2 separate regions of the Homo sapiens genome follow, and region 1 is linked to region 2. The links come from fine-mapping of genetic effects on gene expression. A gene starts in region 2. The other region holds a variant in brackets. All regions are shown on one strand. Distances are from middle to middle.

Region 1 (16,065 bases), 770 kb before region 2:
TCAACTTGAACTGTGGCTCCCACAATTCCCATGCATTGTGGGAGGGACCCAGTGGGAGATAATAATTATGGAGGCTGTTTCCCCAGTGCTGTTCTTGTGGAAGCGCATAAGTCTCATGAGATCTGATGCTTTTATAAGGGGTAACCCCTTTCACTTGATTCTCACTGTCTCTTGTCTGCCACCATGTAAGACGTGCCCTTCATCTTCTACCATGATTGTGAGGCCTCCCCAGCCATATAGAACTGTGAGTCCATTAAACCTCTTCCCTTTATAAATTACCCAGTCTTGGGTATGTCTTTATTAGCAGCATGAGAACAGACTAATACACTATCAAATATCCAATCAGAAAGAGGTTCAGGATCATCTGGTCCACTGGAAAGGAGAAGGAGGTAATAGTTAATGAGCACCTGTCTCTCACCACATCCTGTACTCCTTGCTTTAAGCTTAGATTATCATATTTATTCTTTAAAATTTTTAGATGAAGAAACTAAACCTAATAAAAATTAAGGAAATTGACTGAGGTCATTCAGCTAGCAGGAACTGGAGGCCCAACTTGACCCCAGGGGAGTTTTCAAAGCCTATGACCTCTCTTTTACATGATGCTGAATTAGTGGCATCACATTATCTGACCCCTCAGATTTTCAACAAGTCTGCAAGCCACCAACTCTCAGCAGGCACCTGGGAAAAAAGAACAAAGTTAGGATGACCCTGTGAACACTGTTCCACCCACTGCAGGCTTTGAGGGGAAGAATTCCTTGAGCTACTCTCACAAAAAATGTTCTACAGGAACCTGGGACTACTAAGGTCACTTATGCATGAAATGGTTGAGGCAGGAGTGAGTGAAAGTTATGTTCTTAAAAATAAAGAAATGCAATGCATCAAAGGCGGCCACAGGGAGGTGACAAGATAAAAAAGGTGCTAGATTTAGGTGACCTCACTTTTGATCTTATCTCTACTTCCACTGCCCTCTGCCCCTTCCTTAGATCATTTGCAAAATGCACACAGCAATGCTTACATGATAGAATTTTCTGAAAATTATGTAAGATAATATATGCAGATTTCCCAATGCAGCCTGTGACACAGGGCAGGTGCACAGTAGGGGTTTGCCAGACGTAAGTCCAAAAAGACAATTTACTGCAAATTAGTAGAACTCAGTACATCACTCCTATTTTTAAATGTATTTTCTGCAAGGTTTTCTGGTGTTGATCAGGAGACATTCATCATTGTCTCAGCATGACCTGCACCAAATCCAGGTCACATGAAGTTATAAATGTATCTTGTATTTTAATGTCACAACCCTTGGCTGATTCTAAGGCAAAAAGAAAAAATATATATATATATTCTTAATACATGAACCTAAACAAAGCCAAACAGTCACAAGCCAGAATGTAGTGAAGGAAACAGACTTCTTCGTTCTGCAAGAATAATATTTTAGGCATGGGGAATGCCCAGAGGTTACTAAAGAGAAGCAGAATGGTCACAGGGGGTCACCTAATAGGAAGACAGCAAGCGTGATTTATGAGAGCCATATGAGAGTGAAGACTCACGGTGCTATGTAGGACAAAGGAAGGCAAAGAGGCGAGATCCTCCCAGATCCCTCCCTGTATCCCAGCAAGAGATGAAGACAAATGGACCCAGACATAGAAGGAAAGGAATTTTATTAAAAGCGAATGATACAAATTTTCAGGAAAGAGTTGAGATTCATGAGAAAAATAAACTTATGTTTTGTGGGACTCTAGCATGTTAACCAAAGAAATCCATCTATCAGGGGAAAAATGGGGTCAGGAAAGATATACTGGAGAATCAGACACCTGAAAAAAAGAAACAGAGCAGAAAGGAAAGAGAATACTGAAGAACCCAGCTGCCACACCCAGGTGGGCCATCAGACCATGTCTGGAGATTCCTGGCCACCCCAGTGGGGCCCCCCAAAAACAAACACCAGCATTGGAAATTAACCTTGCAGAACTGAAGTTAGAGAGCGATTGTGATATAAAATAATCACTCTCTTTTGCAGTCTGTTGCCACCAGAATTCTTTTATTCAAACTACCCTAAACAAAAATAGATTTGGGCTCATTTTCAAGGGCCCATTTAGTGTGTCAAAGGAAAGACACTGCTAAAGGATGTGGTGTATAATCTTCCATGACAAAGGGTCATGCAATATGTATGATCAATCCTTTCACCCCTGAGGCACAGCCATAATGTCTTCCAGATAAGAACTTCCTGAGGAACACACTCCTTCTCTCTTATGGCTGAAATATGGATTGAATCTGGGAAGGACATTGACCTCTGCTAGCTGCAAATCAACTTTATTAAGCCACTCTTGCATTGCTATAAATAAATACCTGAGACTGGGTAATTTATAAGAAAACAGATTTAACTGGCTCACGGTTCTACAGGCTTTACAGGAAGCATGGTGCCAGCATCTGCTTCTGGTGAGGCCTCGGGAAGCTTCCAATCATGGCAGAAGGGGAAGTAGGTGTCTCACATGGCAGGAGTGGGAGCAAGAGATGTGGGGAGTAGGTGCCACACACTTAACAATCAGATATCATAAGAACTCACTCACTCTCATGAGGACTGCACCAAGGGGATGGTGCAGTCCTCATGATAAACCATGAATTAGATAAACCATTCTAAACCACCCACAAGAAATCCATCCCCATGATCCGATCGCCTCCCACCAGGTCCCACTTCCGACACTGGGAATTACATTTCAACCTGAGATCTGGGTGGGGCAAATAACCAAACTATAACATCAACCCCTGAACTAACGGGCCTGATGTGAAATAAGGTCAAGCTTAGGGCAGCGATGACCAAGAGAGACAGCCAGTAAGAGGGCGGTTACAGAAGAAGAGGATGACTTCGATAGGTGTATAATGAAAACCAGATGCAATTCTGTTGCTCTGTAAGACTTTCTATACAAATGACAGGTTTTAATTAAAATAATTTTTAAAATTATAATTGTTTCAAAGAAAAAGAATAGGGCAGTATTATGAAAATATGAACATCAACCCCCCCTGTGCAAAATGCTGAGGATGCAAAGATGTATAAGGGAAGACCCCTGTCCTCCTAAAGTCTAACGCTGTGATCTCTGGGTCTTCCCATCTCTGCCTTTTAAATTTAAGGAAGAACAGGGTGGACCCTCCAGGAGTTACTGAGACTGAGATCCCAAGACCACACCTGAGTTCTACCAGCTGTTTAAGTAACCCCAGTCCTCCTACTGGAAGCACATATCAGATCACTGCTGACTTCCTCATTCCCCCAGGAAGCCATCCAGACAACCTTCTGCTGCCCTACTTTGTGACACCAGGGTGCCCTCTCACTTGGCACCTATCTGGAACCCAGCCCCCTCTCCTGGCTTTGGGCATCAGCACAATTGCAGGGTGCCTCTAGCCTGTGTCCCTGTGTCCCTCTGCCACTGGGCTTGCCCTGACTTCTCCTCCTTCCCCCTACTCCTCTTGTCATCAGAGAAGGAGAAAGTCTTGGCTTAAAGGAAGCTCTGAGAACAAGAGTTTGCCCAGTCCCTTCTACCAGGCTGCCCACTACCCCCTTGGCTGGAAGCAAACTGCATCTTCATGCAACTTCACTCCTGCTCCACGTGAAGAACCTGGAATAACCTGGAGAAAGGGTTTTTCCTCACATCCTCCCTGCTTCTCAGGTCCTCCCACTCTCTGCAGTCATGGACTTAAAGATCAGCATCCCTGTGACCGCGGGACGGGACAGCAACGTTCCAATTCTCAGCCTGGAAGTCATTTGGAAACCTCCTTTGGTCTTACACTAATTATCCCATTCATCTATTTTTACCTACTCAGGTATCCTCCAAATCTATCAATGTCTCATTTTTCACTTCTGCCATCAGCCACACTGATTCAGTGGACTCTTGCAAGGCTGACACTCGACAGCTCCCCTCAGCTCTTCTTACCTGAGTCCACTCTGCATCTCCCATCACTACCTGCTTCTGTCTCCAGACACCAGCCGTGCTCATGCTGGCTGTCTTCTTCTTTTTTTTTAATTTTACTTTAAGTTCTGGGATACATATGCAGAACGTGCAGGTTTGTTACATAGGTATAAATGTGCCATAGTGGTTTGCTGCACCTATCAACCCGTCATCTAGGTTTTAAGCCCTGTATGCATTAGGTATTTGTCCTAATGCTCTCCCTCCCCTTGCCCCCCACCCCCCAACAGGCCCCGGTGTGTGGTGTGTGACTTTCCCCTCCCTGTGTCCATGTGTTCTCATTGTTCAACTCCCAATTACGAGTGAGAACATGCAGTGTTTGTTTTTCTGTTCCTGTGTTAGTTTGCTGAGAATGATGGTTTCCAGCTTCATCCATTTCCCTGCAAAGAACATGAACTCATTCTTTTTTATGACTTCCTTCTTACTCCTTCCAAAGACCATGTTCTCTCAGACCTTAGGGCCTTTGCACATCCTACTTACTCTACCTGGAATTATCACACCACACTCTTCCCCACCATCACTGCAAAACATATATCTCTGTGCTTAGTTAATCACTAATCAACTTCCAGACACAGCTCAAGCATCACGTATTCAGGAAAGCCCTTCTCTGATTCCAAAGACCTTGTGGAGTTCTTTATTCTAAGCTTTCCACTATGTTTCTTTATTTAAATATTTGTACGATTTTTAAAAATTAACATCCATTCCCCCCCACCACTATCCTTGTAAGTTCTGTAAACAGAAACTGCATCTGTTTCATTCACTGTTAAATTCCCAGCAATCAGCACACTGCCTGACTCTTGGTAGGCAAGCAATTAATATTTTCTGAATGAAAAAATAAATGATTGAAGATCACAGGATAATACAGACCTCAGGTTCTAGAGCCAAACAGTATTGAGTTTGAATCTTGGCTGTATCACCTACAAGGTGTGTAACTTTGGATAAGATTCTTGACTTAAGCTCCTTCCACATGTTTTTCACCAGAGGTGACAAAGATTCTTACTCATATTTATAAAGTTCACATGAAATTTCTATCAAGTATTTAGCATAGGGCCTGACACATTAAATAGGTTTAGGCTGGGCACAGTGGCTCACGCTTGTAATCCCAGTGTTTTGGGAGACCGAGGTGGGCAGAGATAGAGACCATCCTGGCCAACATGGTGAAACTCCATCTCTACTAAAAATACAAAAATTAGCTGGGCATGGTGGCACACGCCTGTAGTCTCAGCTACTCGGGAGGCTGAGGAAGGAGAATTGATTGAACCCGGGAGGCAGAGGCTGCAGTGCGCCGAGATCACGCCACTGCACTCCAGCCTGGCAACAGAGCAAGACTCCATCTCAAAAAAAAAAAAGAAAAAAGGTTTAACAAATGGCATGCAAACAAACAAGAGAGTATATGCAATGATATGTTAACAATAAAACAGTGGAGTTAGAGTACAGGAGGGGGCTACCAGGCTTTCCAATGATCAAAGACCCATGGCACTATCTCCACCAGGGAAAACAATTATTTCCACAGCTGTCTTTCCAATGAATCCTTCTTTCCTCTCCTCTGTATCAGATTCTAGGCATAAGTTATAACTATGATATATATCTCAGTATAAATGAGTTTCAGAAGCAGAGTCCCAAGCTAGAGAATTGGTCTCAGGCCGAGAAAATCATGTGTAGCTGAAGCAATATGCCATATGTTTCCACCAATGACGAGTTCTACTATTTTTTTTCATTTAAATTATTATTTGTGTATTTGTACCTGTATAACAAAAAATTTTTATTCCACCTGGGGGTATAGTTTGGTGAGGTGATTTGTATTGACAAGAAAGAACATATTAAATCTGGGCTGTCCTAGAAGACTCAGGAATTTGGGTTACCATAATTTGGCTTGGAGGACAGATGGCATAAAACGACCAGGTGGGCTGACTGTTGCCTGTAATCCTAGCACTTTGAGAGGCCAAGACGGGAAGAATCGTTTGAGGCCAGAGGTTCGAGACCAGCCTGGGCAACATAGTGAGACCTTGTATCAACTAAAAAATTTTTAAAAATTTAAAAATTAGCTGGTTGCCGTGATGCATGCCTGTGGTCTGCGTAATTTGGAGACTCAGGTGGGAGGATCACTTGAGATCATGAGCTATGATTATGCTATTGCATTCCATCCAGCCTGAGCAACAGAGAGTGACCCTATCTTGAAAGAAGGAAAAGAAAGAAAAGAAGGAAAGAGAGAGAAAAGAAAAGAAGAAAGAAACAGAAATAAGCTGTCCTCATTGTTTCCACATCATATGTTCACAAATTTCAAACTTTTCTCTGAAAAGAAACAAAGCCAAATAGCAACAATGCAAATGGAAACTCGGGGGTTTGAAATGATGCTTCTCTCTTAGGTGAAACTCTAACAGCCACAAACTGAAAGTCTGATAAGGAAGAGAAGAAAGGCACCTTTAGAGTTTCAATGGGCAGCAAACATCTTCTGTAAAGGGTCACAGTAAATATCTTAGGCCTTCTGGGATATACCATCCCTGTTGCAACTACTCAATTCTCCCCTTGTGGCATGAAAGCAGCTGTGGATAACATGTAAAGGGATGTGTGTGGCTGTGTTCCAATAAGATTTTCTATTTATGAATATTAATATTTGAATTTCCTGTAATTTTTTTTGAGACAGGGTCCCACTCTGTCACCCAGGCTGGAGTGCAATGGCCCGATCTCGGCTCACTGCAACCTCCGCCTCCCGGGTTCAAGCAATTCTCCCACCTCAGCCTCCCGGGAAGCTGGGACTACAGGCATGCACCACCATGCCCGGCTAATTTTTGTATTTTTTGTAGAGACAGGGTTTCTCCATGTTGTCCACTCTGGTCTCAAACACCTGGACTCAAGCAATCTGCCCGCCTTGGCCTCCCAAAATGCTGGGATTAAGGGTGCGAACCACTGCACCCAGCCTGAATTTCATGTAATTTTTATGAGCCATGATATACCCTTCTTCTTTTGATTTTTTTCAAACATTAAAAATTTTTAAAATAATTCCTAGCTTACAGACCACACAAAAACAGGCAGTGGCTGAATTTGGCCAGTGGTTATTTTCTGACTTCTGACTTGAGCCAGTGTGGCACATAAATACTAAATCGCATCTATTGATTTTCTAATTGCCCTTCAGGTCTTCCAGGTGGGAACAGCAGGCCTGTCCTAACTGGACTATAGAAGTTGCAAATTACCCTGAAGAGACCCAAATGAAGGGAACCCATACACATTGATCCTCTCCTTGGGACCTTAAACATTATTGCTTCACTCTCCTCCCACCAGGGGTACTTTGAGTGGGGGAAGATAAAAAGCATCTGGATGCTTAAAGTTATTCTCATGCCTCTGGCATACAGAGCAGACTCTCAAACATCAAGTTCTGTGTATTTGTCTTAAAAAACACAAAGAAAAGTCCAAAGTCTGTGTTCCATTCTGCCACCAGGCTTGTGGAGAAAGGTGCTCCAGGAGACTGTAGGTGCTGGCAGCCCCGGGCAGTGTAGACGAATACAGCTTCCATGGAGAAACACAGCAACACTTATCAAAATTATAAATGCACACATGTTTTCACCCAGCAATTTCATGTCTAGGAAATGTTCTTTTATATATATATATATATATATATATATATATACACACTTGTATACCTGAAAAAGAGATACACACATTTATTCATCATGGCATTCTTTGTAATAGCAAGTGATAGGAAAAACCCAAATATCCGTAAGTAGGGGACTACATAAATTATGGGATATCTTTACAATGAAATACTCAGCATCTGTTCGGGTTTATGTTTGTAAGTGTGTGTGTGTGTGTGTGTGTGTGTGTGTGTGTGTGTGTGTGTACTGGATTCTTATTATTTGTGGTAGTTCTGTTCTATAAAGTTGCTATGAACACTGAATTAGCAAATACTGAACCATTGCTCTTAAATACAAGATTAGCTTCCTGTGAGCCTCTGTCTATAACATTTTCAACTGATCAATATGTAACCTCATTTTACGTACGTTTCTGTTAAAAGACACATTATTTGATATACATTGGTGATCTGTTAGCACTGAGCTCACGGCCAGCATTAGCCGTGAAGCAATGTCACTCAGCCTGAAGCACTGTCACTCAGCACTGTCACTCAGCCTGAAGGAAGCTTATTTAATGCATGTCTTTTCTCCCTGAGGCACCTTACAGCCCTCTCGTGTTTTGGAACGCAGGGCAGCACTTCAGTGTTGCGTTTGGAGGCCATTTTAAACAGTGAAATCGACAACAAAAAGCACAGAAAGGTAACAAGCATGGCTCCAAACAGACCGTGAGAAGGACACTTGTTCATAGTATGGAAGCCGAAGCAGGAAGGCAGAGTCTTACTTGGTTTGACCTCAGCTGGAAACATGCACTTTGGGTGACTCAAACTTTTCACTACCCTGCCCATGGCTGTGAATGACTACAAATGTGTGCCAGTACTGATGGGAGGTTACAAGTAAAGTTCAATGAGTAGGCGAATCTGCTCATATGGAATCCACAAATAATGAGCATCCACTGTACACACATACACACACGCATGCACACAAACACCCTTTACCTCATGTCAAATGACCTCCAAGATGTGTAAAAATACAAAAAATTAGCCGGGCATGATGGCACGTGCCTGTAGTCCCAACTACTTG[G/A]GAGGCTGAGGCAGGAGAATCACTGGAACCTGGAGGGCGGAGGTTGCAGTAAGCCAAGATTGTGCCACTGCACTCCAGGCTGGGCAACAGAGCAAGACCCCATCTCAAAAAAAAAAAAAGAAAAAAGAAAAGGTAAAATGGTACATATACTGTACCATACTTTATGTAAAATATAGGAAAATAATATCTTTATTTATGTATCCATCAAATATCCTTGGAAGGGCAATGAATTACCTCTTGCGATGGTTAATATTGGGTGTCAACTTGATTGGATTGAAGGATGCAAAGTATTGTTCCTGGGTGTGTCTGTGAGGTGTTGCCAAAGGAGGTTAACATTTGAGTCAGTGGACTGGGAGAGGCAGACCCACCCTCAGTCTGGGTGGGCACCATCTAATCAAGGCTGCCAGTGTGGCCAGAATAAAAGCAGACAAAAGAAAATGAGAAGACTAGACTGGCTGAGTCTCCCAGCCTAGTCTTTCTCCCATGCTGGATCCTTCCTGCCCTAGAACATCAGACTCCAAGTTCTTCAGCTTTGGGACTCCTGGACCTTCGACCACAGACTGAAGGCTGCACTGTTGGCTTCTCTACTTTTGAGGTCTCGGGACTTGGACTGGCTTCTTTTTTCCTCAGCTTGCAGGCGGCCTATTGTTGGATCTCACCTTGTGATCGTGTGAGTCAATATTCCTTAATAAGCTCCTGTTTATATATACATCTATCCTATTAGTTCTGTCCCTCTAGAGAACCCTAATACTCCTCTGAACAACTGAAGGACAGAAATGGCAGGAAGACTTCATTGTATTCCCTTTCTCTTCTTGTCATGAAGCCAGTCCCTCCACAGTCACCACTCCACATCAGTCGTAAGAGAAAGTTGGTAGACTCAGTGAAATGACAATCTGTAAGGTTTTTTCATTAGTCACCATGACTCTTTTCAAATGTATGTTATCATTATCCCTTTCAAAAAATAAACAGAGCAACAATTCCTGTGTTGACGTATTAAAGAACTATGGCACGGTCATCACCAGATTTTAGTTATTAAGGACCCTTAACCATTCCTTCCCTGAATATAGATTTTCTGTAAATGACAATGTCTAATTTAAAATTCTGTCTGTGGTCTTTTCCATTTGTGTGAACAGCACACAAAAAAATTACTTATTATGAAAAAAATACTAAATAGAAAGAAGAAGAAAAGCTGAATACCTGGTGGTCTCTAGAAGGAAGCAAAGAAAAATGGATCTTGGGAATAAATAGGATTTTGACCCTTCAGAGTTGGATGGTGACAGTGCTCCCTAGCATAAGCGTGCAGCAAAGCAGAGACACAGACTTGCTAATGCCACAGAGAGAACTGTCTCTACTGGTTAAAGACAGAACAACGGAAAGGACACTAGACATTCAAAGAAAATGAAACAGAGAATCAGTAATGCTTTCTAATCACCTACTGGAGAAAAGAAACATGCATAACGCTATTGCAATCATAATTGTATTACATCAGCCCTTTGGAATGGTATCTGAGAAAAGCCAGTCTAGGCCAGGTGCAGTGGATCACGCCTGTAATCCTAGCCCTTTGGAGGCTGAGGTGGGCAGATCATGAGGTCAGGAGTTCGAGACCAGCCTGACCAACATCATCAAACCCCGTCTCTACTAAAATTACAAAAATTGGCAGGGCATGGAGGTGCGGGCCTGTAATCCCAGATACTCAGGAGGCTGAGGCAGGAGAATCACTTGAACCTGGGAGGTGGAGGTTGCAGTGAGCCGAGGCTGGGCCACTGCACGCCAGCCTAGGCAACAGAGAGAGACTCCATCTCAAAAAAAAAAAAAAAAAAAAAGGGAAAAGCCAGTCTAGAATCTATGGTTGCTAAATTCCTATATTGAAGACCTAATCCCCAGTGCGATCATATGTAAAGGTCATAAGATAGTATTACCTTTGAGAGATGACTAGCTCATGGGAGTGGAGCCCTCATGAATGGGATTAGTACCCTCACAAAAAGAGACACAAAGAGGTGATCTCTCTTGCTATCCCATATGCCACCTGAACTGCCATAAGATGTTCATCTGCAAAGCAGGATGAGAACCCTCGCCAGAAACTGAATCGGCTGACAACTTGATCTCAGACTCCCCAGAACTGTGAGAATTACCTTTCTGACGTTTAAGCCACCTAGGCTATGGGATTTTGTTATAGCAGCACAGGCCAACTAAAACAAGGGTCGACTGTCTTGGTCGCGCCCCACCCACATGACAATGTTGAACTTCAGCTGAAGTCCTGGAAAAACATGAGCTCCTGCTTCTGGAAAACAGGAATAGTTTCTTTTAAATCTCCCATCCTTTTCTGTTCCAGGAAAGAGCTTGCTGCAAAGACCAACCTTTCCCCAAAAGACATAGATAAGATGTGTGGATGATCATCTTATTTACCTATTGACAAGGCCAGACACAAACTCTCCCAATTCCCATTCTTCAGCTCATAAATAATTAACTGAACTATCTGTCCCCACTAACAAATCTGGACAAAATGCCCACTAACGCAGCCTGACCAAACTTTGGTCAGTCTTCTCTGCTTTCCCACGGTCCCTGAACTTTGTCCCACTCTTATGCTTGTGCGAGCACTGAGAGCTTATGCAAGAATGCAGACAAGACACCACTACTGCCAACAGCCTTTCCCTATAATCGACTGACTACATATGCAGAGAAACGTTCCTGTTTAGTTGCTCACTCACAGCACCTACTCCCTTGACTCTCCAACACCCAGCTCCTTCTAGCCGTGCTTTACTTCTCCAAGTGGTTGGGACATTCCCCCTATTGCAATAGACTTCCATATATGATCAGTCCTTACCTAAGTGCTGATTTTTTTCTTTTATTTGACCCTTTGGAAACATCTGTAAGTTGGCATACACTTGCTTCTGCAAATCTTTCACCTGCCCTCAGGAACCGAGCCCCTCCTACTGGCCAACCCAGTCTCCATCCCTCCCCAAACATACCCCAGGCTCTAGCCCTGCTTCGCAGCACCCTCACCAGAACCAGATTGGGGGTAGGAGAGCTAAGCAGCATCTTGGGTCACCTAACTAAAAACAGTACAAAATCTGCAATGAAAGAAGTCAGAAAAAACAAAATTCCTGTTAAGCCAAGTTTCCACTCACTAACTCTGAATGGTTCTTGCTTCTGGCAAAGCTGACTTTTTTCATGGTCGAGGCAACATTCTGACCGCAAAGATCTCTCTCTCTCTCTCTCTGTCACAGTCTCTCTCTCTCTCTCTCTCTCTCTCTCTGTCATGCTCTCTCTCTCTCTGTCGCGGTCTCTCTCTCTTTCTCTCTCTCTCTCTCTCGTGCTTTTGCACCATGCACCTGCAAGTTGCACAGAGCTACAGCAGATTTTATCACCAACCTGGGGCTTGGCCAACGTAGAATTGACAGCTATGGTCAGCTACAATCCTGAACCCGATACTGCATGTGGTTTCCTAAAAATGAAGGATTTGTGTTACCTACATTATAAACCTTTAATTGTCCTCCCAAGAAATTGCTAGTTCGGAAATTAACAAAAGGAAGCTGAAGAAGAGAAAAGAAGGAAGAAAGAAAGGTGAGGGTGGGCTGGGGCAGTGGGGCAGGGGGGGATAATTTGCTATAACAAAAGGCAATAAAGGGAAATTTTAAACATATGTCATATAGTACTTCATAATTATATCCACAAACATAATCTCTATCTTGGCCAAATGTGTGTAACTATAGCTATCCACAAGAGATCCAATTCCAAACAAGTTTTAATGTTATAACTGGGTTATGGACTTGATTCCTTATTTTGAATATAAAACAACATATGTATTGCTAATTTTTCAAAGGGGCTTTCTAAATAAATATTGAATGAAAGTCAGTTTGAAGGGCCCCTGCAAGTCTCTGCCTAACCAGGTCTCCCACAGGCCTTCCTCATTGTTCCCTCTAAGGCTTTGCACAGCAGGCAGCTCCACCAAGAACAGGCGCCCCGTCATGGTACAAATCTTCCAGAGCCTTCTAAAGCTTTTGCCTTGGGGAAGCCATTGTTAAGCACTCCAGCTTCCATCAAAAAATCACTTCTCTGATCATCAACTTCATTAGAGGCAGGGCCACACAAATTAGCCCTTGATTGTTTTTAAATTGCTTTCTGTATGACTTTTCTCTCCAACTACCTGATGAACTCCATATTTCATTTTTTTCTGTGTCCTTTACAGCATGCGGCTCTGTACTCTGTACATAGTAGAAGCTCAGTAGAAATTGGCTGATTGATTAATTATGAAAGGGCCCATAGATCAGGAGATACTCCACAAGAAAGAAGAAAAAATTCCACGACAGAATACTTGACACACACTTTACAATTTATCATGCACCTTCACAAACATGACTTTATCTTGAGTCCCTTAACAACTCTGAGAGACAGTCAGGACAGCAATTATATTGCTTGATTATAACCATGGTAATTGAGTTTTAGAAAGTCTAAAGCAAAGTTGTGAAACTCATGCGTAGCAGAACTGGGGATAGAATCTCCACTTCTAACTCTCAGTGCTGGGTACTATTTAAGCTGGAAGCCAAACACACAGCACTTGTTGGTAAACGCATCTGTCTTTGAGAACTGACCACGAAGTCAACAGCAGACCACTTGAGAAGACAAGGGGACATTTGACAAAGTAAATGTCAACGTTACGCACAATGTCCCACCATCCCAACCTCGACTCCTGCCTCTGCCATAGTACTAAGTGAATAATGTCCCCCTCCAAATTCATATCAACCTAGGACATGCAATGTTATTTGGAAATGGGGTCTTGCACATGTACGTAGTTAAGAAGATGTCATGTTGGATTATATTGGGCCATAAATCCAGTTATTGGTGTCCTTATAAGAAGGAGAGAGAACACACAGAGATACACACAGAGAAGAAGGCCAGGTGTGGTGGTTCATGCCTGTAATACCAACACTTTGAGAAGCTGAGGTGGGAGGATCACTCAAAGCCAGGAGTTCAAGACCAACCAGGGAAACAGCAAGATCCCATCTCTACAAATTTTTTTTTTTAAATTAGCCAGGTATGGTGGTGCATGCCTGCAATCCCACCTACTTGGGAGGCTAAGTCTGGAGGATCCCTTGAGCCTGGGAGTTCGAGGCTGCAATGAGCTATAATCATGCCACTGCATTCCAGCCTGGGAAACAGAGCAAGACCCCATCTCTAAAAATAAAAAAAACAAAAATGAAAAGATAGAAGAGGCAGAGGTTTTTGTGGTACAGTTTCAAATCCAGCAACCACCAGCATCTATGAGATAGGCAAGGAAGAGGTTCTCAGTCAGACTTTCCAGAGGAAGGCCCTGCCCATGCCTCAATTTCACACTTATAGCCACCAGAACTGCCAGAGAATAAATGCTCTTTGTTGAAGCCACCCAGTTTGTGGCAATTTGTTACAGCAGCCTTAGGTAGTCAACAGTGCTAGAACTTCATACTCAAGAAATGCCTCTGAGTTTGTTTCCCTGAAGACATTACCAATGCTGACTGCACACTCAAAAGGGCCTTTTCCCACTCTTTTTTATTTAGCTCACCCAAATCTATCCTTTAAGAAGTGGTTCAGTGTCACTTTCCCCAGGAAAACTTATCTAGCCCCATCGTATCAGGAGAGGCCAGGGACCCTTCACCATGCCCAGGCATATGTCTATGGTAGCACTTATCATGCTGCATTGAGATACAGGGTCTACACATCTGACTTCCCCACTAGATCCTGATCTGTGTTGGGGAAGGTGTCCATGTCCCCCAGCGCTTTGCAGATGCTCGTTATCGTCTTACGATGGGATGTTGTGGAGCTAGTTTACAGTATCAGAGTAGATCTCCTTTTGTTTTCTACTTTTCCAGCCATGTCTCTGTCAAGTACTAGCTGGGTGATCACAGTCAATTACTTAATCTCTCTGTTTGCTTCTCTGCTAAGTGGGGACAGTGACAACTCCTGCCTTCTCCAGGGCTTGTGAAGATGAAAGATCACTCATATATATAAAGCATTTAGAACACGTGTGGAAAGTGCATGATAAAAGCCAGCCACTATTTTTACCCTGCCCAGAACAACAATGCTCCCTGGCTCCAGACCCCATAACAGTTACAAGGCCAAAAAATAAGACACCACTTCAAGATATGTGGGAAAAGACTAGGAATAGCATTTAGGGAAGCAGGATTTTAATCTCAGGTCTGACCACTTTGGTCAAGTCATGGTACTTCTTTATTTTCACCTTTGTAATAAGAAGGGTTTAGATTAGATTGATTCTTCCCCATCTAGACTCTAGGATGTTTAGGGACTTGTAAAAGTGACACTCAGCTTCTCAAGCTATGCAGAATATTTCAGATCTGAAGGAAAGCATGTATATTAAGAGTAGTAACACTGATGACACTAACCAAATGCCAAGCTTCTCTATGTTTAGAGGGAATTATCTTAACCCCACATAAAAATACTGTTTACTTAAAACTGACTTGCGATTTTGGTCAGCAGTTACTTACATTTTGCAAAAATCAAAGTATCACACACACAAAAAAAAAACCCAGGTAAAACTAAATCACCTTTTTTACTTAAAAATGCTGTTTCCCATACAGATCATTTTTTCCCAAAGCATCTGACCCACGGGTCTGAAGATAATAAAAGGGTGAAAAACGGAGACTCTCAATGGACTGCGTGAACACTGAAGTCCTTTCTGTCTCTAACGCTGGAGGGATTACTGAAAATTTCTCTAAGGCAATTGACCATAACAATTTATTTCTCACTTAATTTTACTCTGTGGCCCCAAGGGAAAAATGTCTTCCAGGGGGAAAAAAAATGTAAGATCCGAGTAAGGATTCTAAAGATAAAAGCATGTGAAGAGAAAATTTAAACAGCTGACAATGTCAAAACAGAAGATAGAAATGAATTTGGGTGTTTAAAACAACAACAGCAAAAGCCAAATGGCCTGAAGTAGAAATGGCAACAATAGACCTTAGAAGTATAATAGGCCCTTCACTGCGTTTGTAAGTAAATTTCGAGTTCCTATGAATGGGGTGGGAGCAGGGTTCATACATGGTCAGGGTGTGGGAAATCAGGAACACATTTTCTCTGTTTACAAAGCCATACGCTGGGGGTATTCAGGGCAGATGTGAATGCTCTTCTCAATCAGTTAACACTGGGATGCAAACCTCTCACAGCCCCTGGGAGCACAGAATCTGAGTAGGAAGTGAGGTGAGTAGAATAAAGTGTTATTATATCCTTCTGAGAATACAGCGTGCTAGTGGAGAGAGTATCAGTAATAATAATACATGCAGAAAGTGCTTTGAAAACAAAATGCTAAATAAATATGACTTATGTCAGTTGGGCCTTATGAAAAATCTATACCTTCGATATTATTATTATTATTATTTTTAGAGACAGTGTCTCACTCTGTTGCCCAGACTGGAGTGCAGTGGCACAATCATAGCTCACTGCAGCCTCTGATTCCTAAACTCAAGCAATCCTCCAGC
Region 2 (16,065 bases):
GCTCATGCCTGTAATCCCAGCACTTTAGGAGGCTGAGGCAGGTGGATCACAAGGTCAGGAGTTCAAGTCCAGCCTGACCAAGAAACCCCGTCTCTACTAAAAATATACAAGTTAGCGGGGCGCAGTGGCAGGCACCTGTAATCCCAGCTACTCAGGAGGCTGAGGCAGGAGAATCACTTGAACCCGGGCGACAGAGGTTGCAGTGAGCCGAGATCATGCCACTGCAGTCCAACATGGGCAACAGAGTGAGGCTCCATCACAAATAAATAAATAAATAAATAAGACTTGCCCAACACTTGGGCACATAAGCTTCTCATCAAAGATGCCCATGATATAAAGGCACATGAATTTCTTTATGGAAAGGTCACCTTTCTCTTTGCTTGACATATTCAGAAAAGCATTAGGAAAATAATCTTACTCAACCAGCTACATGCTATGTTGGCCACAGTGTTTCATAAGATATATTTAATTTTTAAAAATTTTTTATGATTATTGTATATTCTACAACAAGCAAAGGGGCAGATAGTTCTTATATCTCCTTACAGAGTTTCAGAGGACCTAGGGTCTGAGGAGAGCAAAGGAATTAGGAATATCATAAATTGCCCAGATTTTCCATTTGTAAGGGAGACCCAAGCCTTGCCCGGCTTCCTGAGTTCTCCAGCATCCTGGCCATGCAGCTGGCATTGGGTGTTATCATTGGCCAGAAAAATACGTATAAGTTCACCAGCCAATAGCTTTCCTTATGAGCCTAAGAGAAAACAGCGTAAGCACACTTTTCTGCCTTCCTTAAAGCTCTTTGGGAGCCCAAGGCGGGTGGATCATCATGTCAGGAGATCGAGACCATCCTGGCCAACATGGTGAAACCCTGTCTCTACTAAAAATACAAAAATTAGCCAGGCATGGTGGCACACCCCTGTAGCCCCAGCTACTCGGGAGGCTGAGGCACGAGAATCGCTTGAACCCAGGAGGCGGAGATTGCAGTGAGCCGAGATCATGCCACTGCACTCCAGCCTGGCAACAGAGCAAGACTCCGTCTCAAAAAAAAAAAAAAATGCAAGCTGTCCTCTTACATGGCTGTCTGTAGTGCCAATCTTCATGCATTCAGAAAAACCGGGAGTTAAACTCAACTTAACTAAAACACTCCCAAATCTTAATTCTTTGGTTTCCAGGGCAGTGAGACCAAGATTGTGATGGAATTCAGAAAAAGGGACCCCTGAGAAACAGCTGCTGACCAAACAAGCAAGGGCACTGATATGAGAACAATAATAATGCCATTACTTGTATTCTGAAAGCATCTTTCTCCAGAAAGCTCACAATTCTGTATAGATATACAGTATTTACTGTTGTTTTTCCTTGGTGATTAAAACATTAAATTTGTTCTCATTAATAATGTATCTTTTTGGCCAGGTGCAATGCCTATAATCCTAGCACTTTGGAAGACTGAGGTGGGCGGATCACCTGAGGTCAGGAGTTCAAGACCAGCCTGTCCAACATGGGGAAACCCCATCTCTACTAAAAACACAAAAATTAGCCGGGCATGGAGGCACATGCCTGTAATCTCAGCTACTCTGGAGGCCAAGGCAAGAGAATCGCTTGAACCTGGGAGGCAGAGGTTGCAGTGAACCAAGATCATGCCACTGCACTCCAGCCTGGGCAACAGAGCGAGACTCTGTCTCAAAAAATAAAAATAATGTACCACTGGGCCAGGTGCAGTGGCTCACGCCTGTAATCCCAGCACTTTGGGAGGCCGAGGCGAGCGGATCACAAGGTCAGGAGATCCAGACCATCCTGGCTAACATGGTGAAACCCCGTCTCTACTAAAAATACAAAAAATTATCGGGCGTGGTGGCAGGCGCCTGTAGTCCCAGCTACTCGGGAGGCTGAGGCAGGAGAATGACGTAAACCCAGGAGGCGGAGCTGGCAGTGAACCGAGATCACGCCACTGTACTCTAGCCTGGGCGACAGAGTGAGACTCTGTCTCAAAAAATAGTAATAATAATAATAACGTATGGCTGTCCACAAATATTTTGGCTGTTTCTATTTGCTGTGTCTATAATTTCCATTAACATCTTCACTGAGAATATCTGAATATTGCTGTGGCTTGTCACTTTCTTCAGTTGTATAGGATCCTATTTTCTGTATCTTCCTCTTCCACTTTGGGCAGTAGCTTTTTCCTTCTCTTTCGAGGTAACTTCATGTTTTACTTGTCTGAATTCATGTTAGTATGTTCATCTTGCAATTTAAATCATCTAAGCTTGCCTGCAAATTCTATCCACAAACTTCATCCTCCTAATATAATAATCTATGTAATCACCTTTTATCTGTGATCATTTTAATGAATTGCATTCCATTTATATGGCTATCTTATTATTTCTAAAACACTTCTTGACAGTGGGTGCACATCAACCAGGTGTTCCTGATTTTTCTCTTCATTCTATATAATGTAATTGAAGACCTCTTTTCTCCCACCTTCCTGAACTTTACAGTGCCAAACGATCAACACCAAAAGTTTGTGTGTTGCTTTGGCATTTCTTTTAATAACCCTTCTTTACACAGCAGAAATATTTTTCTGCCAACTCATTTCCTCTAAAAGTGTTTTTGTCTAATGAATATTAGTTGTAATCAAAGATCTTAGAAGTGAAACGGGTCCCTCAATTTTTTGGTCTGTCCCTCTGTCTTCAGGCAGACACATATTAATTTTGTGTAAAAGGTGGTGTGATTAGCCAGGCGCGGTTGGATCACTCCTGTAATCCCAGCAATTTGGGAGGCTGAGACAGGTGGATCACTTGAGGTCAGGAGTTCGAGACTAGCCTGGCAACCATAGCAAAACCCCATCTCTACTAAAATACAAAAATTAGCCAGGCGCGATGGCGTGCACCTGTAGTCCCAGCTACTCGGGAGGCTGAGGTGGGAGAATCGTTTGAACCTGGAAGGCAGAGGTTGCAGTGAGCTGCGATCACACCATTGCACTTCAGCCTGGGTGATAGAGTGAGACTCCATCTCACAAAAAAAAAAAAAAAAAAAAAAAAAAAAAAAGGTGGTGTGACTGATGGCCAGGTGTGGTGGCCCCCTCCTGTAATCCTAGCACTTTGGGAGGCCGAGGCGGGCAGATCACTTGAGGTCAAGAGTTCAAGATCAGCCTGGCCAACATGGTGAAACCCCGTCTCTACTAAAAATACAAAAATTAGCCAAGCGCGGTGGCACATGCCTATAATCCCAGCTACTCAGGAGGCTGAGGCAGGAGAAGCACTTGAACCCAGGAGGCAGAGGTTGCAGTGCACCAAGATCGCACCATTGGACTTCAGCCTGAGGGACAACAGCGAAACGTCATCTAACAACAACAGCAAAAAAGGTGGTGCAACTGAAATCCAAAGTGACTCGTTTAAGGTCACACCTCTATTAAGTAAGGAAGCAGAAGCTGGGCTCTAGCTCTCCAGTGGAGGAGCGGGGGAGATTGGAGAAGGTGGTTGGACCCAGAGAAGGGAAGTTTTTAAATCAATAAACTACATAATCGGCACTTGTGTAGAGACGTTATCTATGCTTGGACTCAAATATGTAACAATTAAGGAATATTAATAAACATCATTGAAAAGCTATTTGGTAATGAGAATTATGGAAGAATGCGATTGTGCTCAAAGACCACTGTTCCAGTCAGCTAATGCTACATAACAAACCACTCCAAAACTTAGGGCCTAAAACAACAACAATACTTATTTTGCTCACAAATCTGCGATTTGGGCAGGGCTCAGCAGAGAAGCTCATCTCTGCTCCCTTCATCTTAGCTGGGACGGTTTGAAGCCTCAGCACTAGAATCACCTGAAGGCTCATTCAACCCAGACATCTGGAGAATGGAACAACTGGGGTTCTGGGGTTCCTCCAGTAAGGCTCCCCATCTCTGCCTGGCATCTTCATATCGACTCTCTTGCACATCGACTGCAGGCTAGCCAGACTTCTTCCACGTCAGCCCACAGCTCTCAAGAGATGGGGCTCCAGAAAAAAGAGCCAAGTGGAAGCCACATTGCCTTTTATGACTTAGTCCCAGAAGCCAAGCAGCATCACTTCTGCCAAATTCTCTTGGTCAAAGCAGTTAAAAAACTCTTTCCTGATGTAAAAGGCAAGAACAGGGCCAGGCGCTGTGGCTCACACCTGTAATCCCAGCACTTTGGGAGGCTGAGGTGAGCAGATCACTTGAGCCCGAGTTCAAGACCAGCCTGAGCAACATGATGAAACCCCACCTCTACCAAAAATACAAAAAATTAGCCAGGCATGGTACACACCTGTAGTCCCAGCTACTCATGGGGGCTGAAGTGGGAGGATCACCTGAGCCCAGGAAGGTCAAGGGTGCAATGAGCCGTGACCGCCCCACTGCACTCCAGGCTGCGCGACAGAGTGAGGCCCTGTCTCTAAATAAATAAATAGAAGGTGAGAACATAGACCCCACCTCTTGATGGAGGAGTGTCAATGTCACATGGTAAGAAGGGTATGTGGGGTGAGATCCATATTAGAGCAGCTATGTTTGGGAAACACACTCTGCCACAACCAAAAACCACTGGATTACCAAACCGTTGAAACAGACCTTGAAATAACCACCTATTTGCCACTCACAAAATTCATTTCATAAGACACAGCTCAAATGTCCCTTCCTTTTGGGAATCCCGTGCTGATATGCCCCAGCTTACACAGCGCTTTGTAAAGATGCCTACTCTCTCACTCGGCTTATTCTATTGTCATTTTCATAACAGGATTGTAATCAGGCAGGTACGATCATACTATATTAGCCAATCATTTTACTAGTCAATCAATATGACATCATAGGGCAGCTTTGCAAAGAGCCCTCAGATTGATGGAGAAGAGATACTTTTAGGGAAGCCAGAAGCAACGCTTTGCACAGAAAACAAAGGACAGCAAAGAGAAAAGAATCAGCAACTCAGAGAAGAAAAACTGGATCACACAAAGATGGAAAAAATATATACATATACAGACATGGGTTTTTGTGCTTTTCCCCTCCAGAAGGTGAGTTGAAAGCATTGCCCCAAAGCAGTGATTCTCTTTTCTTTTTTCTTTTTTTTTCTTTTTTTTGAGATGGAGTCTGGCTCTGTCTCCCAGGCTGGAGTGCAGTGACGCCATCTTGGCTCACTGCAGGCTCCGCCTCCCGGGTTCACGCCATTCTCCCGCCTCAGCCTCCCGAGTAGCTGGGACTACAGGCGCCCGCCACCACGCCCGGCTAATTTTTTTGTATTTTTAGTAGAGACGGGGTTTCACCATGTTAGCCAGGATGGTCTCGATCTCCTGACCTCGTGATCCGCCCACCTCGGCCTCCCAAAGTGCTGGGATTACAGGCGTGAGCCACCGCGCCCGGCCCCAAAGCAGTGATTCTCAAACCTCAGCTGTGTCAGGGTCACCGGGAGGGCCTGGGTCTGGTGAAATACCCCCAGTTTCTGATTCGGTGGGCCAGGGTGGGGCCTGAGAACCTGCATTTTCACGGATTCCCAGGCGATGCTTCTGCTGGTCGTCCGATCCCAGGCTTCAAGAACCAGTACCCACTTTGTGAGGCCGAGGTGGGAGGATTGCTTGGATCCTTGAGTTCGAGACCAGCCTGGCCATCATAGGGAGAACCTCCCCACCCCCAACCCCGCCACAGTTCTTTTTTTTTTTTTTTTTAATTAAAAAATAACTGGGCGTGGTGGCGCTGGCCTGTGGTCCCAGCTACTCCGGAGGCTGAGGTGGGAGGATCGCTGGAGCCCGGGAGGCGGAGGTTGCAGTGAGCTGTGGTGGTGCCACTGCACTCCAGCCTGGGCACCAGAACGAGACCCTGTCTCAAGAAAGATGAAAAGGAATATACTGGAGATTCTGAAGGCAATGACCACACTGACCACAGGTGAAACCCCGCAAAGACGGAGGAACCCAAAGAGCCACGAGAGCTGTGGGTGGAGACGGCCCAGGAGGCTGCAGCGGCCTGCTTTCAACAGCATACTTCTGGGTGGGACCCCCCGGGGCGGACACCGCCGCTCCCCTTGGCCGCGGTGGCGGGCGCCCCCTCCCGACGCTCTTGGGTAGTGCAACCCGGACCGCACAGCGGAGCGGCCGGCCCCCAGGTGGGCGGGGCCAACCCGGACCAGCCTCCCGCCGCCTCAAGTCCTTGGGTTGCTGGGACTGCAGGCCGCCGCGAAGACAGTCCCCGCCCGCCGGGTGGGCGGGCCCAAGGAGACCGCCCCGCTCTTCCCCCCGGGCCTTGATTGGTCAGCGTCGCCCTTGCGCGATGACGTCGTGCCTGGGCGGAAACTTTGCGAGAGTAGCGCGGGAGCTGAGAAGTTGCAGGGTTGAGTTGGTCCCGGCAAGTCCTTGAGCAGTTTGTTCCTCTGTCTTCCCGCTTCCTGGTGCCCCGACTGCGTCCCCACGAACGCCCCGTCCTTACCGCCGGCTGCTGTGGAGTGCCTCGCTGTCTCCCAGGTCCCCGAGTGAGCGTCGAATGGGACCTCTGTGGCTAGGGCAGGCCTGTGTGGGTGGCACTGAGAGGGAGGAGGGGAGGGGGATGTTCGCAGTTTCCTTGCGACCCCAGGGACTTTCTTTGTCCCCGCCATCCACCTCCTTAGGCCTTTGGGATCGCCGACTGGTCTAATGTCGCCGGCCCTTGTGGCTCTGGGAAATTAGCATTGATTAATCTTCCTAACAATTTTTGTTTTTATAGAGACAGGATCTCCCTATGTTGCCCAGGCTGGTCTCGAACTCCTGGGCTCAAGGTATCTTCCTGCCTCGGCTTCCCAAAGTGCTGGGATTACAGGCGTGAGCCCGGCCAGCTCCTAATAATGTTAAGTGCTTGCTAGGAGTCAAGCGCTGTGCTGAGCGCAGGGGCTTCCCACGTCATTGCGTCCCCAGTGCTTAGTGCCAGGCACTGAGCAGAGGCGCGATTCGTATTTGAACTAAAACGAACCCCGTCCCTGAGGAACAAGACCTCTACTGGGAAGTCAAAGAAATGAATAGTGATTGTATGGTGTGATGGGTGCTCAGCTCTTGGTGGACAGAAGTAAGGGGGAGGCTTGTTTGAGAAACGGATACCTGACCTAAGCCTTGGAGGAAGAGGCAGACACTGGAAAACTAGAGTCCCTGCGTTCTCTCACCACTTGCTAAAGGGCCTCTACAACCCCAGGAAACCTCAATAAACCTTTCCTTTCTCCAGATAGATGTCTGTTCTTGCAGATAATTAGAAAACGCATTGCAGAGTATTGGTTCTTTCCCTCTCATTAGGTTCCTGGTTTCAGAGAAGATGACCGAAGAAGTGGATTTCCTGGGACAGGACTCTGATGGGGGTAGTGAGGAAGTGGTCCTAACTCCTGCAGAGCTCATTGAAAGATTGGAGCAGGTAAGCATCCCAGATCGAATCCCTTTGCTCCAGTCAGCCTTTTTATTTAGTTCAACTGTGAATATCAGGGATCACAAGATGAGGAAACGGAATTTGGGGCTTACTTTAGAACAGGGACTGGATCTTACCATCTACATGGAAACGGGAAGCAAGAAGGACATCCTCTGTTAGAGACCTCATCATATCAAACACAGCATCCCCAAGTGGGGTCAGTAAGGGACAGCTTTGGGCACATTCAGTGAACAGTTCACAGAGCAAGGATCCACGTGATATTTTCAGGGACTGTAGAGGTCCCTGAACTTCTTTACCTTAGTCCCTTGAACATCTGCTGTTTCCCTGGAGAATGCCTGTTTAGCAAGAAAATGCTGAAATGCCTGTAAGGGAAAACTGGTCATATTTTTCCTTTTTCTCACATGTTTTTTCTTGAGTCGTCTGCTCTCCATATGTCCACTGCTTATCTAAAATCCTTTCTGAAATATTTCTCCTTTAAGTTGTAATAGCTATGACTTACTGCATATTTCCCATGTGCCAGTAACTGTGTTCTTTACACTTATATCTCATGATGCTCTGGTAACAGGAGTTCAGACTATCTGGATTTAAATCTGTCTGTGACACTCCTCTGTTATGTGATCTTGAGCAAGTTAGGGAGTTTGTCTCAAGCCGTTGCTTGCCTATAAAATTGAGACAATAGGGCCGGGCACGGTGGCTCAAGCCTGTAATGCCAGCACTTTGGGAGGCTGAGGTGGGCGGATCACCTGAGGTCCAGGAGTTCGAGACCAGCCTTACCAACATGGTAAAATCCCGTCTCTACTAAAAAACAAAAATTAGCCGGATGTGGTGGCGCATGCCTGTAATCCCAGCTACTCGGGAGGCTAAGGCCGGAGGATCACCTGAACCTGGGAGGCAGAGGTTGTGGTGAGCCAAGATCCTACCCACCATTGCACTCCAGCCTGGGCAACAAGAGTGAAACTCCGTCTCAAAAAAATAATAAAATAAAATTGAGATGATAATAGTGTCTATGTCCTGGAGTTTTTGATTAAATGTGGTAATTGTGTAAAGCACTCAGCATGCTATCTGACACATGATAAGCACTCACTAGATGTGAGCTGTTCATAGTAAGTATCCTTATCCTCTTGCTCTAACTGCCCCTTTCCAGAGCTCTCTCATGTTTGCTACTTTAGTATTCTTCATTCTTCCCTGCCATACATGATATCACGAATGACAAAACGGAACTAAAATGATTTTTAAATTATACCTTACATGATAATCCTTACTATTTAGCAGTGATTCTTAATCTGTTTTTATATCACAGACCTTTTTGAGAAACTGGTAGAAACTGTGGTCTTTCATCCCACAATAACGCACACATGCACCCATGCAGAATTTTGCATATGACTTCCAGGGGATCAGAGATCCCCTGAAATCCACCCACAGACCTAGTTTGTGGAACAGCATTAAGAATTCCTGGTTCGTTAGGAAAGGGTTCATTAAACAAAAATCAAAAGGCACATAGCATAAAGGAAAAAAGGGATACATTCCTGGAGTGCAGTGGTGTGATCTTGGTTCACTTGCAGCCTCCACCTCCCAGGTTCAAGCGATTCTCCTGCATCAGCCTCCTGAGTAGCTGGGCCTACAGGTGTGCACCACCACGCCTGGCTACTTTTTGTATTTTTAGTAGAGATGGGGTTTCACCATATTGGGTTTCGCTGTGTTGGCCAGGCTGGTCTTGAACTCCTGACCTTGTGATCTGCCTGCCTTAGCCTCCCAAAGTGCTGGGATTACAGGCATGAGCCTCTGTGCCCAGCCTGTTTGTACTTCTGGATTAGAGTGAAAAGACAGGCCACCAGGCTGGGAGAAGATATTTGCAAAATACTAATATGTAGCTGACACAAGATGATTATCCACAGTACATAAACAGCTCTTTCATACTGCCCAGTACAGACTGATACCTCAGAGAAGAAGAAAACAGGATGACCAATAAGCATATGAAAAAGATGTTCAACCTTTTTAGTAATCAGGAAAATGAAAATCATGAGATATCATCTCATATCTATCAGATTGGAAGAACTGAAAAACGTGAGCAATATAAAGTATGGCAAGAATGTAGAGCAGCTGAGCGCAGTGGCTCATGCCTGTAGTTCTAGCAACTCAGGAAGCCCAAGTGGGAGGTTCATTTGAACCCAGGAGTTTGAGACCATCCTGAGGATCATAGCGAGATCTTATCCCAAAAAGAGAAAATTAAGAATATAGGGCAGGCCGGGTGCGGTGGCTCACACCTGTAATCCCAGCACTTTGGGAGACCGAGAGGGGCGGATCACCTGAAGTCAGGAGTTCAAGACCATCCTGGCCAACATGGCGAAACCCCGTCTCTACCAAAAATACAAAAATTAGCCAGGCTTGTTGGCATGCCTGTAATCCCAGCTACTCAGGAGGTTGAGGCAGGAGAATCTCTTGAACCCAGGAGGTGGAGATTGCAGAGAGCCGAGATCATGCCACTGCACTCCAGCCTGGGCAACAGAGCAAGACTCCATCTCAAAAAAAAAAAAAAAAAAATGAAGAGCAATTTGCACACTTATATACTGCCGTGGGATATAAATAGGTATAATCGCTTTGGAAAATAATTTGTTATTGTCTAGTAAAGATGAAGGTGCACATACCTGCGGCCCAGTAGTTCCACCCCCAGGTACATACCTAGTGAAAACTTCCGCATGTACTCTAGGAGACATCCACAGTATGTTCACACATTGCTTGCAATAGTTAAAAATTAAAATAACCTAGACAACCGTAAACAAATAGCATTGAGAAAATATACCATACACAGTGGGAATAAAACAGCAGTGAAAATGAGTAAAATAACTCCTGAAACAGCATGAATAACAGGAACTTAATGTAGAACAATAACAACCATAAAATATGAGCTGCCAAAGAAACACTTTATGTAAAGTTCAAACTTGCAAAATTATTGTTCAAGGCAGAGCCGCCACCCTTGGGTGATGTGGCACACTGCTATGCCACAGATGCCTCTGTGTGGACCCCTGCACCTTCCAGGACAGCTGGAGCCCCAGGCTGGTTACTTTTTCAAGTGAGCATCATCGGGGTCCTTGAAAGGCAGCTAGAGGATGGGGCGGCGGGGGTTCTGACAGCACAGCTGCAGCTTGCTGGTGGGTAAGCTGCAGTAACATCTCATGCCTGATGCTCTAGTGCAGTGCCCTGAGTGCAGCCAAGGAAGTGACCCGCCACCTGCACGGCTGCCACAGCCAGATCCTGTCTCTTATGCTGTGTGGCACAGCCAAAGGGACAGCCTGACAGGGCTGCTGATGAGAACAGCTCCAGGAGCATATATAGGATACCCTTTAATGCCTGTAAAAAGTGATTTAAAAGTTGTTACCTGTAGTGCAGATTTGCTCATTTTAGTGATTGTTTTAGTTTGCTAGGGCCACAGAGCGAAGTCCCAAAGACTGGGTGGCTTAAATAGAAATTTATTTTCTTAATTCTAGAGGCTGAGGTCAAAGTGCCAGCATAGTTGTCTTCTTCCGAGTCCTCTGTCTTGGGTTTGTAGGTGACCATATTCTCCCTGTGTCCTTGCATGGTCTTCCCTCTCGTGTGTGTCTGTGTTAAAATTACCCCTTATCAGGGCACCAGTCTTACTGGATTAGGGGCCATCCTAATGACCTCATTTTAACTTAATCACTTCTTTAAAGACCTCCATCTCCAAATACAGTCACGGTCTGAGGTCCTGGAAGTTAGGTAGATTTTTGAGGGGCGGACACACTTCAGCCCGTAGCAATAATGAACAGATTGGCATTTAGAATTTTGATCAGGGGCCAGGCACAGTGGTTCAAGCCTGTAATCCCAACACTTCTGGAGGCTAATGCAGGGGGATGTCATGAGGCCAGGATTTCGAAGACCACTGTAGGCAACATGGTAAAACCCCATCTTTATTAAAAAAAATTTAAAAATTAGCCAGGCTTTGTGGTATGTACCTTTAGTCCCAGCTACTCTGGAGGCTGAGGCAGGAGGATCACTTAAGCCTTGGAGGTCAAGAATGCAGTGAGCCATTATCATGCCACTGTGTGACCAGAAACCAGATGTAGCCATTTCAAGCATAAAACCTGAGTTAAAAAAAAAAAAAAGATTGGATTTAGATACAAGTTTCTCAGTAAAAATTTTGGAAAGATTTATATGAAAGTTTTATACTAATATAAACTTCCACCTAATGTTTTATACTTTATTGTCATAATTTCATAATGTAAATGAAGTGGTCCCCAATACTACCCCAGTGTACCAGACAAGCACTATCATTTTCTTTGAATATCCTGTCATGAACAGGTTGAGAGGTGTTCTACAGAGATATGAACAAATGTAGTGAGACCATAAAGAAAATTCAACATGAAATTCAAGCTAATGATTACCTCTGAGGAGGGAGGGACACACAGGGTCTTTTTTTTTTTTGAGATGGAGTCTTGCTCTGTTGCCCTGGCTGGAGGGCAGTGGTGCAATCTTGGCTCACTGCAACCTCTGCCTCCCAGGTTCAAGCAGTTCTGCCTCAGCCTCCCAAGTAGCTGGGACTACAGGCGTGCCACGCCCGGCTAATTTTTTGTATTTTTAGTGGAGACGGAGTTTCACCATGTTAGCCAGGATGGTTTGATCTCCTGACCTCGTGATCCGCCTGCCTCGGCCTCCCAAAGTGCTGGGATTACAGGCGTGAGCCACTGCACCCGGCTTGTTCTTGTAGTTTTAAAAATTATTCAGTATTTGGCTGGGCTCGGTGGCTCACGCCTCTAACCCCAGCACTTTGAGAGGCCAAGGCAGGTGGATCACTTGAGGTCAGGAGTTCAAGACCAGCCTGACGAATACGGTGAAACCCTGTCTCTAATAAAAATACAAAAATTAGCTGGGCATAGTGGCACATGCCTGTAATTCCAGCTACTCGGAAGGCTGAGGCAGGAGAATCACTTGAACCCGAGAGGCAGAGGCTGCAGTGAGCTGGGATCATGCCTCTGCTTTCCAGCCTGGGCAACAGAGTGAGACTGTGCCTCAAAAATAAATAAAAATTATTCAATATTTAATAAAAATCAATCAAAAAGAAATGCTGCTCCTAATAAGCCCTCCAGAAAATATGATGTTTTCCCATGCATTATGCAGGTTTTTTTTGTTTGTTTGTTTCAGTCTGCAGGACTGTTACAGATGCTCAGGCTCTGCACAAATGCCTATGACTGTAGCCATACCCAGCATTTGGTAATGTGTCTTGACGGTGATCATGGGGAGAAGCAGACACTCAAGGACGTCAGAAAAAAATAAGTTGAGCCTGGTCAGCATATAATTCTGAGCTATGCTAAAACTACATTTCCTGTAATTGAAAGATAAGTGTAGCTTTCCTCAGTCACTTAGGGATATTTCAGTTCTCTAAGCCTTGGAAGTCTCTAAAATGAACCAAACAGCTGGGCCTGAGTCATAAATTAGAGCTTTAACCTCTGGCTCCAAAACTCCATAATAGATGAGCGCCTGTTTCTATTATGATCCTGTATACTTTGGGGCCATTAGTAAATTACTCAATCTGTATTTTTTCAATCAGATGAGGATAACTATATCCATTTTCTCTGAGATATGATGATGATGAATGAAAAATATTTGTGAAGTGCTCTGAGCTTCAGGAATGAAGAGCTGTGTGGATTGGTGGGTTATTGCTTTCTCTCTAAATAGACATGGGGTGGCGCTGCCTGGGGGAACAGTGTGCCCGGGCTGCCTGGCAAAGGCACTATTTGAACACCAGGTGGTGTCACTCTCAGCACCAAGCGTCACACTAACTGAAGTAAGCAAGGGTTTGTATGAGTGTCAGTTGAATAGAAGGTTGTGAACACAGCCTCCCAACTAAAACAAGACACGAGAAAGCAATCGCTAAACGTAGTTTGTCTTCAAAACACCTTCAATGTTTCCAGTTGGTGGGCAGACAGTTTTCTTGCCTGCGCCATCCCTGGTTTTCGTTGGACTTGGGCTGACTCACTGGGTTGTTTAGCTCTGTGGTGGGTGATGCTTGCTTTTTCTGGCATTTGTCTTTTAGGCCTGGATGAATGAAAAGTTTGCCCCTGAGCTGCTGGAGAGCAAGCCTGAGATTGTAGAATGTGTCATGGAACAGCTGGAGCACATGGTAAGAGTCGCTTGTCTTGGGTTGACAAAGGAGGAGAAAGGTAAAAGCATTTGGTCAGCACACTGAGAGCTTGTGGTCTGGTAGCAAATCTGTTTTGTTTGGCTCCACTCACAGTCCAGTTCTTTAAAACAACATTGAATTAGTTATCTATGTTTATCAATCTTGAGAGTGCCTGTAAATATCTGGATATTGGCTTCCCATGAAAAGTCTAAAATCCTGCATTTCTGCATGAGAACAGTTGACCAGAGCAGTCCCATGAGAGCTGTCCATCCATGTACTCCCTGCTCCCCACAGCCCCTGACTACCCACCCTTCTCTTGTAGCCTCCCCACCTGGCCCCTGCAAACATTTGAGTTTGTGGTCCCTGGCCTAGATGATCTGAGCATAAATCATTGTCAACTTCAGAGAAGCTGTAAAATGTGGATATTTCAGTTTCTCAGCTGGTGTTTTAATACTGCTTTTTAGACCCAATGGAAGTTTCGTCTGTGTGCTGTACTATCTCCCTTACAATCAGATTGGAGTTCTTTTGGAAGCCTCTGGCTGAACAGATTCTATTCAAATGGTCATTTTCTAAAAGTAAATGACTATTGTTTGTACTTTATACAATGATAAAATGAAAACTCACATGATATTTTTGTTTTCCTTGGACTGAAACATAGTCTGGGTCCTCAACGTTGCCGGTGATGATGGTTGAACATCATGTTTTTTATAAACCTTAATTTCTCATTTAATAGGAAGAAAATCTCAGGAGAGCCAAAAGGGAGGACCTGAAGGTCAGCATCCACCAAATGGAGATGGAGAGGATCCGCTACGTCCTCAGCAGCTACTTGCGGTGTCGCCTCATGAAGGTTTGACGTGGAGATACCTGGAGGGATTGAGACAGCACAGTCTGTAATGCAGACTGAATGTCCTGGGGAAAACTTGGGCTGGGGCCCAGGAGGGTCCAGGACCTGAAGATGCTGCTAAGAGCCCAATATCCATGTAGCTAAACTGTAAGGAGAGCGAGAGATTGCTCCACAGAAGCACAGAGGAACGTGTGTGGCCCACTGCGGGGACACCGCACACATTTTTAGTCTGTTCACCTGCCGAGTGAGTGGTTCCCCCTTGCGTTACAGCATGGCAGTGCTAAAGGGAGAGTTGTTGGCATTGGTCAATAGTGAATGCTGACTAGAGGAGAACTTGTTTCCAAAATTATTTTGTCTGTCAGATGGCCAACGTCAGTGTCAAATGAACCAGGATGACTTACATTCACCTACAGCTTTGTGGCTATCTAACTTACAAAAATGAAGTTGCAGGCCAGGCGTGGTGGCTCACACCTGTAATCCCAGCACTTTGGGAGGCTAGGCGGGTGGATCACCTGAGGTCAGGAGTTTGAGACCAGCCTGACCAACAAGGTGAAACCCCATTTCTACTAAAAATAAAAAAATTAGCCAGGCGTGGCGGCAGGCGCCTGTAGTCCCAGCTACTCAGGAGGCTGAGACAGGAGAATTGCTTGAACCCAGGAGGTGGAGGTTTCAGTGAGCCAAGATTGTACCACTGCACTCCAGCCTGGGCAACAGAGCGAGACTCCGCCTCAAAAAAAAAAAAAAAAGAAATTGCAAAACATTCCTAGTTTATAACTCTGAGAAATTCTTACTTCCTTGACATTTCATTTGGTTCTATGTGTCTCTTTAGTTATTACAAATAAGATAAATTATCTCTTCTACATGAGAATGCTTCAGCTATCTGAAGACTGCCCACAGTCTCCTCGAAGTCTTCTCTCAGGCATACATTTTAGCCATTCAAACCATTTACTCTCCTGGTCTCTTCTCTAAAAGGGTTCTTGTTTGTCTCTATCCTTCTTAAGTTACACTATCTTAAACTAAACACAGTATCCCAGTTGTAGTTTGACCAAGTTTGTGAAAAACAGAATGATCATTTCTCTTATTCTGGTTATTAAGCTGGTAGTAATGCCAACCACATCACATTAGCATATTTATCACATTAGCATATTGACAGGTACGCTGCCTGAGCTCATTCTTCACTCACGTGGACACTAACCCCTTTTAAGATGATAATTACCCCATCCAGTCACTGTCCTCTACTTGTATGGCTTAGGTTTTGGCTCCTTAAGTGTAGGGCTTGATACTTATCTCTCTTAAGCTTTATCTTATTAAATTGGGCCATTTCCCTTGTCTCTGGATGCTGATCTTGTCACCTAATGTATTAGCTGTCTCTTAATACTTTATGTCATCAACCCCCTTTTTTTATTTGTTTGGTTGTGTTTTTTTGTTTTTTTTGACAGAGTCTCACTCTGTTGCTCAGGCTGGAGTGCAGTGGCGCGATCTCAGCTCACTGCAACCTTCGCCCCCCAGGTTGACGTGATTCTGTTGCCTCAGCCTTCCAAGTAGCTGGGATTACATGCCCCTGCCACCAGGCCCAGCTGATTTTTAGAAGAGACAGGGTTTCACCATGTTGGCCAGGCTGATCTCGAACTCCTGACCTCAGGTGATCCACACCCACCTTGGCCTCCCAAAGTGCGGGGATTACAGGCATGAGCTACTGTGCCTGGCCCACAT

Alleles and levels. Positions count from the first base shown, and alleles are read on the strand shown. Sizes are in standard deviations (SD) of each study's normalised expression.
For the expression in hippocampus of the gene that starts at base 6,323 in region 2, allele A in region 1 goes with a higher level than allele G (moderate effect, 0.65 SD a copy in GTEx).

What was found.
Region 1: its variant is fine-mapped to the expression of GINS4 in hippocampus (GTEx, PIP above 0.99).

The regions. Positions count from the first base shown.
Region 1 is chr8:40,748,881-40,764,945 of GRCh38, forward strand. The region is part of intron 3 of ZMAT4 (zinc finger matrin-type 4); the gene reads right to left. Among named protein-coding and RNA genes, the nearest start is that of ZMAT4, 140 kb to the right of the region's middle. The variant G/A (reference allele first, on the strand shown) is at 8,600.
Region 2 is chr8:41,522,939-41,539,003 of GRCh38, forward strand. It overlaps GINS4 (GINS complex subunit 4), which reads left to right and starts at 6,323. Exons shown (of 8, transcript NM_032336.3): 1 at 6,323-6,458; 2 at 7,246-7,360; 3 at 13,422-13,508; 4 at 14,242-14,355. The coding sequence starts at 7,265. GPAT4-AS1 (GPAT4 and GINS4 antisense RNA 1) reads right to left here. Exons shown (of 3, transcript NR_125824.1): 2 at 14,133-14,372; 3 at 11,367-11,472. RefSeq lists a silencer at 5,869-6,298.